2 linked regions of the Homo sapiens genome follow. The protein of the gene in region 1 purifies or fractionates together with the protein of each later gene. This does not show direct contact. Each region holds a gene or a part of one and is shown on either strand. Other genes may lie near its edges. The genes, in order: SEZ6 and LMF1.

The links.
Region 2: the proteins of SEZ6 (region 1) and LMF1 purify together in Homo sapiens (affinity purification with mass spectrometry; one large-scale study listed by BioGRID and IntAct). This does not show direct contact.

Annotation. Positions count from the first base shown.
Region 1 is NC_000017.11:28,978,420-28,982,231, forward strand, and holds part of SEZ6 (seizure protein 6 homolog isoform 1 precursor), read right to left. Parts: intron 3,621-3,812; coding exon 2,952-3,620; intron 1,395-2,951; coding exon 1,261-1,394; intron 1-1,260. UniProt on the Homo sapiens protein: May play a role in cell-cell recognition and in neuronal membrane signaling. Seems to be important for the achievement of the necessary balance between dendrite elongation and branching during the elaboration of a complex dendritic arbor.
Region 2 is NC_000016.10:964,246-968,057, reverse strand, and holds part of LMF1 (lipase maturation factor 1), read left to right. Parts: intron 1-3,812. UniProt on the Homo sapiens protein: Involved in the maturation of specific proteins in the endoplasmic reticulum. Required for maturation and transport of active lipoprotein lipase (LPL) through the secretory pathway. Each LMF1 molecule chaperones 50 or more molecules of LPL.

The sequences.
Region 1 (3,812 bases):
TGGATGGAAGGCAGACTGCTAAGAGCTAAGATGGGGGATGCCCCAGGCTTTGGGGATCTGAGGGAATTCCCAGAGAGGGTGATGCCAGGGCCAAGTCCTAAGGGAAGGCATCATGGGATGACTCTTCCAGGCAGAGGGACCAGCATGTGCAGCTGGGACTTGGGAAAGAAGGTTTGGCCCATTCAGTTAGCTGCAAGCTGTTTAGTGCAAAGTGGGGGTAAAGAACAAGGGACGAAGTGTCTAGGGGTGGACCCAGAGAGACTGACCTTGATTCAGGAGCCCTTAGAGAGGTGTAGGGGGCAGGATTGATTTGAGAAAAATGACTGCAGTGGAGGTGGAGATGGGTAGAGTAGGGAGCAAGTGTGGGCGGGGTGACCAGTGAGGCAGCTACTGCATCATCAGGGGAGGGATGGTGGGGTCTAAACCACATGTGGTTGTGGGGATGGAGGGAGAGAAGCAGAGAGATTTAGAGGGGAGTATCATGGTGACAGAATTTGGGGATGAATTGATGGGACTGGGGGAAGAGGGACAGGGAAAGGCTAAGGAGACCCCATGTTGCACATTAAGGGACACCATCCACATTGCACTATGGTGGTTCTGCTCCAGGTTTCTGACCTGGACAGGAGTGGCTTTGGGGGAACAAAAGGAAGATTTGGGTTTGTGGAGGTTGAGGAGCCTGTGGGACATCTGTGAGGACCTGTAGCCTCAGGCCTCGGGATTAAGAGAAAGTCTTAATCCTAACGGAGGGATGAGATAACCCAGGGAGGCTGGGGACAGGAGGCTGGCCTGTAGATTTGACTTTCCTATCAGCTGATCACCTCTCTGATGGTGTAATCAGGTCTGTCTTCCCCCACCTCTGCATCCCAGAAGCCAGCACAGAACCTGACCCAGAGGAACTGCTCAGAGAGGATTTGCTGAATGAATGAATGAATGAGTGAAGCTCCATGACTCTCTCAGGCCCAGCGAGGCAGCCCTGTGTTCTCTGCTTAGCCCATAGATTCAGATGTAGGGTTTATACTCACCCAGTCCCCTGCCCATCCAAGGCTAGAGCCCCCTCCCACAGCCCCTCTTGGCTTAGGCCATTGCCAAACACACGGGGCAGAATCTAACCATTTAGGCCCATCTCCCAGCCCTGGCCTTAGGCGATGCCCCACAATTGATGCCCCTAATCATCCCCACATCCTCTCATAGCATGTGCCTCTCTGAAGAAAGAGAATACACCCGCCCCAGCTTTGCCCTTGCCAGATCCAGATCACTCACCTTGATTTCCACGCCATAGCCAGGGTAGACAGAGATGTAGAAGAAGCAGTCCAGGCCAACATCAGTGGGGGAGCTGAGGTCTGTAGGGGAGTCCAGAGAGCCCTCTGGGCCTGAGAAATTCCAGCTACAAGGGCCTGGGAGGCAGGAGGAGACACAAAGCTAGTGCCAGCTCTGGTGAAGTGGTCCAACTAAGGCTGAACCGTGTGTGTGTGTGTGTGTGTGTGTGTGTGTGTGTGTGTGTGTGTGGTGAAGACCACCTCTTGTGATGTCTAGTCTCCTGTTGAAGGAAGGGGACCACCTTTTATTAGGCACCTACCATGTGCAATCTTTTTTTTTTTTTTGTATTTTTAGTAGAGATGGGGTTTCACCATGTTAGCCAGGATAGTCTCCATCTCCTGACCTCATGATCCGCCCGCCTCAGCCTCCCAAAGTGCTGGGATTACAGGCGTGAGCCACTGCACCCGGCCCCCTAACATGTGCAATCTTATCTCAGTTTTCACAGTAGCTCAATGAGGTTTGTTTTCTTTCTTTTTTTTTTTTTTTTTGAGACGGAGTTTTACTCTTGTTGCTCAGGCTGAAGTGCAATGGCGTGATCTCAGCTCACTGCAACCTCTGCCTCCTGGGTTCAAGCTATTCTCCTGCTCAGCTTCCCGAGTAGCTAGGATTACAGGTGTACACCACCATGCCTGGCTATTTTTTTTTTTTTTTGAGACAGAGTCTCGCTCTGTCACCCAGGCTGGCGTGCAGTGACATGATCTTGGCTCACTGCAAGCTCTGACTCCCGGGTTCACGCCATTCTCCTGCCTCAGCCTCCTGAGTAGCTGGGACTACGGGCACCCCCCACTACGCCCGGCTAATTTTTTGTATTTTTTAGTAGAGATGGGGTTTCACCGTGTTAGCAAGGGTGGTCTCGATCTCCTGACCTCGTTCCACACGCCTCAGCCTCCCAAAGTGCTGGGATTACAGGCATGAGCCACCGCGCCCGGCCAATTTTTTGTATTTTTAGTAGAGACGGGGTTTCACCATGTTGGCCAGACTAATCTTGAACTTCTGATGTCAGGTGATCCACCTGCCTCGGCCTCCCAAAGTGCTGGGATTACAGGCATGAGCCACCGTGTCCAGCCAGAAGTTTATTTTCTTATTGCCATTTTACAGATGAGGCTCAGAGATGAGATGTTAAATAGAATTCCTAGGGTCATGTTATAGTTGGAAGAATCAAGATTTTTTCTTTTTTGAGACAGAGTCTCGCTCTGTTGCCCAGGCTGGAGTGCAATGGTGCAATCTCAGCTCACTGCAACCTCTGCCTCCCAGGTTTGAGTGATTCTCCTGCCTCAGCCTCCCGAGTAGCTGGGATTACAGGTGCCCACCACCATGCCCGGCTCATTTTTGTATTTTTAGTAGAGATGGTGTTTCGCCATGTTGGCCAGGAGGGTCTTGAACTCCTGACCTCAGATGATCCACTGGCCTCTGCCTCCCAAAGTGCTGGGATTACAGGCATGAGCCACTGTACTTGGCTGAAGAATCAGGATTTGAGCTCAGGTCTATCTGGGTCCAATCTACATGCCTCCTGCAGGCTGGCCCTTGGTGCCAAAGGGCAGGGCAGGCTGGCACAGTGTCAGAGACAGGCTTTTAGGGGCCCCGCAGCCTCCCCCATCCCCATTTCCACATCTGCAAGCCAGCAGGTAGCTGACCTGGTGTCTGGACTGTGGTGATGGTGGTGGTGATGATGGTGGTGGTAGTGGTGGTCTCCTCATCATCTCCTGAAGCTGTGGAGGAGGTGATGGTCCCCTGGATCCCGATCCCTGCGCCCTGGGACACAACCTCTGCAACCCACGGCCTTCCCATGTCTCCAGGACCCTCTTGGGTTGGTGTCCAGGCTCTGCTGGGGGGTGTAGTGCTGGCTATCTCCCCTGGGCCTAGGGTGGGCACTGCCATGCTGGGCCCTGGAGGTAGGGGAGCTGTGATTCGAAGCATAGGGGACTCTGACTCCGGACTCCAGGGTCCCTCCTTGGACTGGGGCTGAGTGGGTACCGCAGCCATGGCTGGAGTGGGGCTGGTAAAGACAGGGCGGCTGTCCTGGTTGGCCAGGCGGGGAAGGGGACTTGGGGTGAAGGGTGCAGGTGGGTCAGGCTGGAAGGGCAGTGCTGGCCTCAGCTCCTCATCTCCCTTTTCCAGCCCCTCTTGTAGGAATTCCTCAAGCAGCGGGTGGTGGTTGAGCAGCTTCAAGGTGGGGGCTGTTGTGACAAAGTGGACGCCTCGTTCTGGCTGCTCAGGTGTGGGGGCTGCTGTCAGCTCGCCATCTGTCTCCTCGATGCCTGGGGCTTGTCCTTTCCCCACGGTTGGGGCCTCTAAAGAGAGTCCTGAAATAATAAGGGATGGTCAGAGGTTCTCCCCCTGCTCCAGAGAGCAGCATCACGCCCAACTCGAGTAGTGGGGGGGCCCGCTCTCTTTTGACAGACAGCCCTGAGGAGCGTGCTCACTGCTGAGAATCACGGAACTACAGAATTTGTGAACTGGAAGTGAGGTGCTATTACATACTTCAAGGGTGGCAC
Region 2 (3,812 bases), on another chromosome or scaffold:
TGGGGTGTCGGGCATGCCCTGCTGTGCTGTGGGAGCCGGAGTGTGTTAGCGGAAAGCGGCATTTTCACAGGGCTCAGAGTTGAAGACACACCTGTCTTCCTGACGTGTGGACTCGGGTCCCTAGTGTGATTACTGCGTTGAGCAGATGCTGAAGTAGCACCCTGCCCGGTGCTGACCTCCTGGTGACAACGCCACTACCCCCAGTGGACAGCGAGGAAGCAGGGTCAGCCACTGGCCCGGCTGTGCAGCGATTGTCCGTAGGCCCTGGAGTTCAGCCCTGCCCTTCATTCACGCCACTGTGCAGCCTGCGTATCCTGGACACCCGGTTCACATCTGGGCAGCGGCGTTCTCGGGCCGTGACGGCTCCTGGGAGGACCGAGGCTGCCCGAGGTGGTCGGGGATGCCTGACACTGACACTGAGCTTCCCCTCAGCACAGATGTCACTCCCAGGAATGGCTGAAATCTGGACGAGTAAAAGCTTATGTGACAGGAGTTTCCGGCCTAAGCAGCGGGACCTGGGTGCCATGTTCTTGGTGTGTAGGGGCAGTGCCGGCCGCCCATGGGTGCCGGTGCCTCCTGCAGTCAGGCCTGCTGCTGTCTGTGTGCGCAATAAGGAAACCGAACCCAAGAGTGGGCACCATGCCCAGGCTCACCGGAACAGAGGGCAGAGCAGCCTGGCCAGAATCCCTCACTGTTTTATGGCAGGAACCCCCAGGGTCGTGCGTCGACGTTGTGGCCCGGCGTTCCCTGCGGAAGATTGAGGCCCTCACTGGTCAACCCTGCAGTACGGGGGCGTGTGTGGCAAACAGCTGGTCTGGAGCCTCGTCAGCCAGGCCGGCTCCTTGATGCTTTGAAATCCCCCTCCCAGGGGGCCTGGCCAGGTCCGTCCATGGGCGGCCACAGGCAGCTGGGGCTGGACTCCTGGAATTTCCAGCAGCCCTGTGTCTGTTACAGCGCCAGTGGTAGAGCTGGATTCCCTGACAAGACGGGGGAAGGACAGCCTTGCAGGTGCTACTGAAGACACCCTAGGCTAGAGCTGCCCACCCTGGGTGGGTTCTCCTGGACTGAACTGACGTTGGTTTGCTATTGATGAGAGTCACATAGTATATGTACACAATGCATTTTAACTGCCTCAGAATTAAGGTGTTATCTGGAAACAGTGTAATTACAGTTGGTCAGAATTGGGTTGATAGCAGTTCACTGCAGAGAACTTTCTGGAAGCTGTGACAGGTGGAAGTAGTGGGGCTCAGGGTTGGTGGGCCACACCTTAGCTGTGTGGCCTTGGCCAAGTTGCTCATCAAGACCTTCCTGTCACTGATGAGGTGAGAGTGACCGCTGGGCCGTCCTGAGGCTGACATGGGATTCCTTGCCTGTGCACACTTCCCAGAAGGCGGACCAAGGACACACCCGCCTGGGAGACGGCTCGCAGGCAGCCACGGAGTATATATATCTGAACGTCGGAAAGGACCTTTCCTTTGAAGCTCAAACATTTATGAGATATTGTTACAATTCGGAAGGGATCTGTAGGTGAAATGTGACATGAAGACTGGGTAACGTTGGCATTTGCAGACTGACTTTATGTGTGGCACTTTTCGTGGGTGCCATGGCGTCGGCGCAGAGACACTCCTGAGGGATTTCGTCTGTCGGTCCATGTGTTTGTGGGGGCCGAGTCCTGGACAGGCCTAGGAGGGAACCGCCCCGGCCAGGGCCGGCTGCTCGGCGCCTGCACAGGGCATGAGTGCTGGGGGCTTTGGGACACACGCTCCCTGCTGCCTCTGGGGCAGATGTCCACCTGCACTGCTTGCAGTGAGAGGCTGGGGCCCCAGTGGACGAGCCGTGGTGCCTGAACTGCTCCCGCTGTGTCCCCGCCACGTGAGGCATCTCTTCCTGACCGTGGTCCTGAGACCACCTGGCCTCTGCCTTCCCAGGGTTAACTGTACTTGTTCTCTCCGTGGCTGCCGACACCCTTCTGGCCTTCAGACTTAGCCCTCATCACTCGTGGACTCCTGACCCCACCCAGGGCTGACCACCGGAGCCCTGCTCTCTGCTTCCTTTGCGGCTGATATTGTCCCCATTCCAGTGTTGTTCTTGTGCCTGTCTCCCCTCTAGCTCCTTGCAGTCAGGGAGAGGACTTTCTTTATACCTCTATCCCTTGTCTTCTAGGGGCATCTCCTGCTCAGTGAAATGTGCTGACCCGTAGCAGGTGGTCTCTACCAGGGCTTAGTGTCAGCATGGGACACTTTTCCAGCCATTACCCCTTCTTTCCCCTCTACCCACCTCCAGCCCCGAGGTGCGGCCCAGCAGGACAGATACTGCCACAGCCCTCCCTTGGTTGTGTTCATACTTCCTGGGCTGCTCATGCCTTCCTGTTTGCTGGTGGATTCTCTTTTTGCTGGAGTGTATCCCCAAGCAGCTTTTCCAGAAAGGACCAACTTGCCCGGATCTCTAATTCTCCATCAAAGCCACTTTCCCTCAGAGCTTTGCAGCATTGAGGAGGCATCTTCAAGCATCTGACTCTTCTTCTCCCTGGAAGCTTCTAAAGTCTCAGTGCCTTGCCCTCCTGCTCTCCACCTTTGCTCTCTGTTCTGGTTATTTATCGAGGAGTCTCTGAGGCTCTTTTTTTTGCTCTCTTGTAGTGGCCTTGGTGAGCTCTTCAGCCTCAAGGCTTGTCCTTGGCTCTGGATGAGGCTCTTCTGGCCTCTCCCCAATCTGCCCATGTGTTCCAAACACCGCATGCCCCAGCTGGGTTCCAAACAGGGCGGGTGGGGGCCACTCTCCTGTCTAGCTTCGTAGCGTGGGCTGAAACCTGGGAAAGTCTCTCCATGAAGCTGAATGGAGAAGAACATGGCTTCCGCGAGGCCCTAGGAGCCAAGCACCACACAGAACCCACCGCTTGGCTGTGATCCCGAGTGACGGGGACAGCCTGGACTGCAGAAGGAATGCCCAACGCTGGCGGGAACGGAGGGGCTTTTCTTGCTCGTCTTTCCAGTTCCACATTGTCACATTGGAGTCCTGGGCTCACTGAGATTATGTTGAAAATCCGACCTCTAGGGGATCTCCATGCTAGTTTTGTCCTTTAGGCGTGGAGGCATGCGTGCCGCACTGTGGCGTCTGTTCTGTGCGCCTGCTCACCGCCCTTCCTTCTTTTCCGCGTGGGGCAGTTTTATCGCGTCTCCCCGGCAGCTGCTTCGGCGAGGTGGGGCCGCGGTGCCATTGGTAGCGTGTCTCTGAGTCTCACCGCAGCCCTTGTAGCTTGGCATCCTCGTCAGATGACACCCGAGGCAGGGTTGACGTGGCAGGCAGAATCGTTTGCACCCGTATTTGCTAAACTCTCAGCTGTTCTTCAGAAAATTTGAGGAGAAAATGAAACCAAAAAGAATACTTGAAACCCTGCTCAGTTGGTTTTGTTCTGAGCTTTCAGTGGCTCTAAGAGCTCATGGGAAATGAGTTCTTTTTCTTTTCTCCGGGCCACTTGAGTTCTAATGAAATGCACCACTTGGTTTTACAAGTTCTTCTATAAAATACTTGCTTGTTTAAAAAGCAAACAGCACTGCCCTACTTCGGAGCTCTGCAGCACATCCCTTAAAGAAAAAATACTTGAGGTCACTGTGCTGAGGCCCAGAATTTAACCACGGCCAGTAAGAACCATCAACAGAGAACGGCATTTCTGGGATGACTGTTTTAATCTTACAACAATTTATCTGAAAGGAGAAAAGAGAAAGCTGATTTTTTTTTTCTGATTCTTTTTTTTTTTTTTTTTTTGAGACAGAGTTTCACTTTTTCGCCCAGGCTGCAGTGCAGTGGTGCAATCT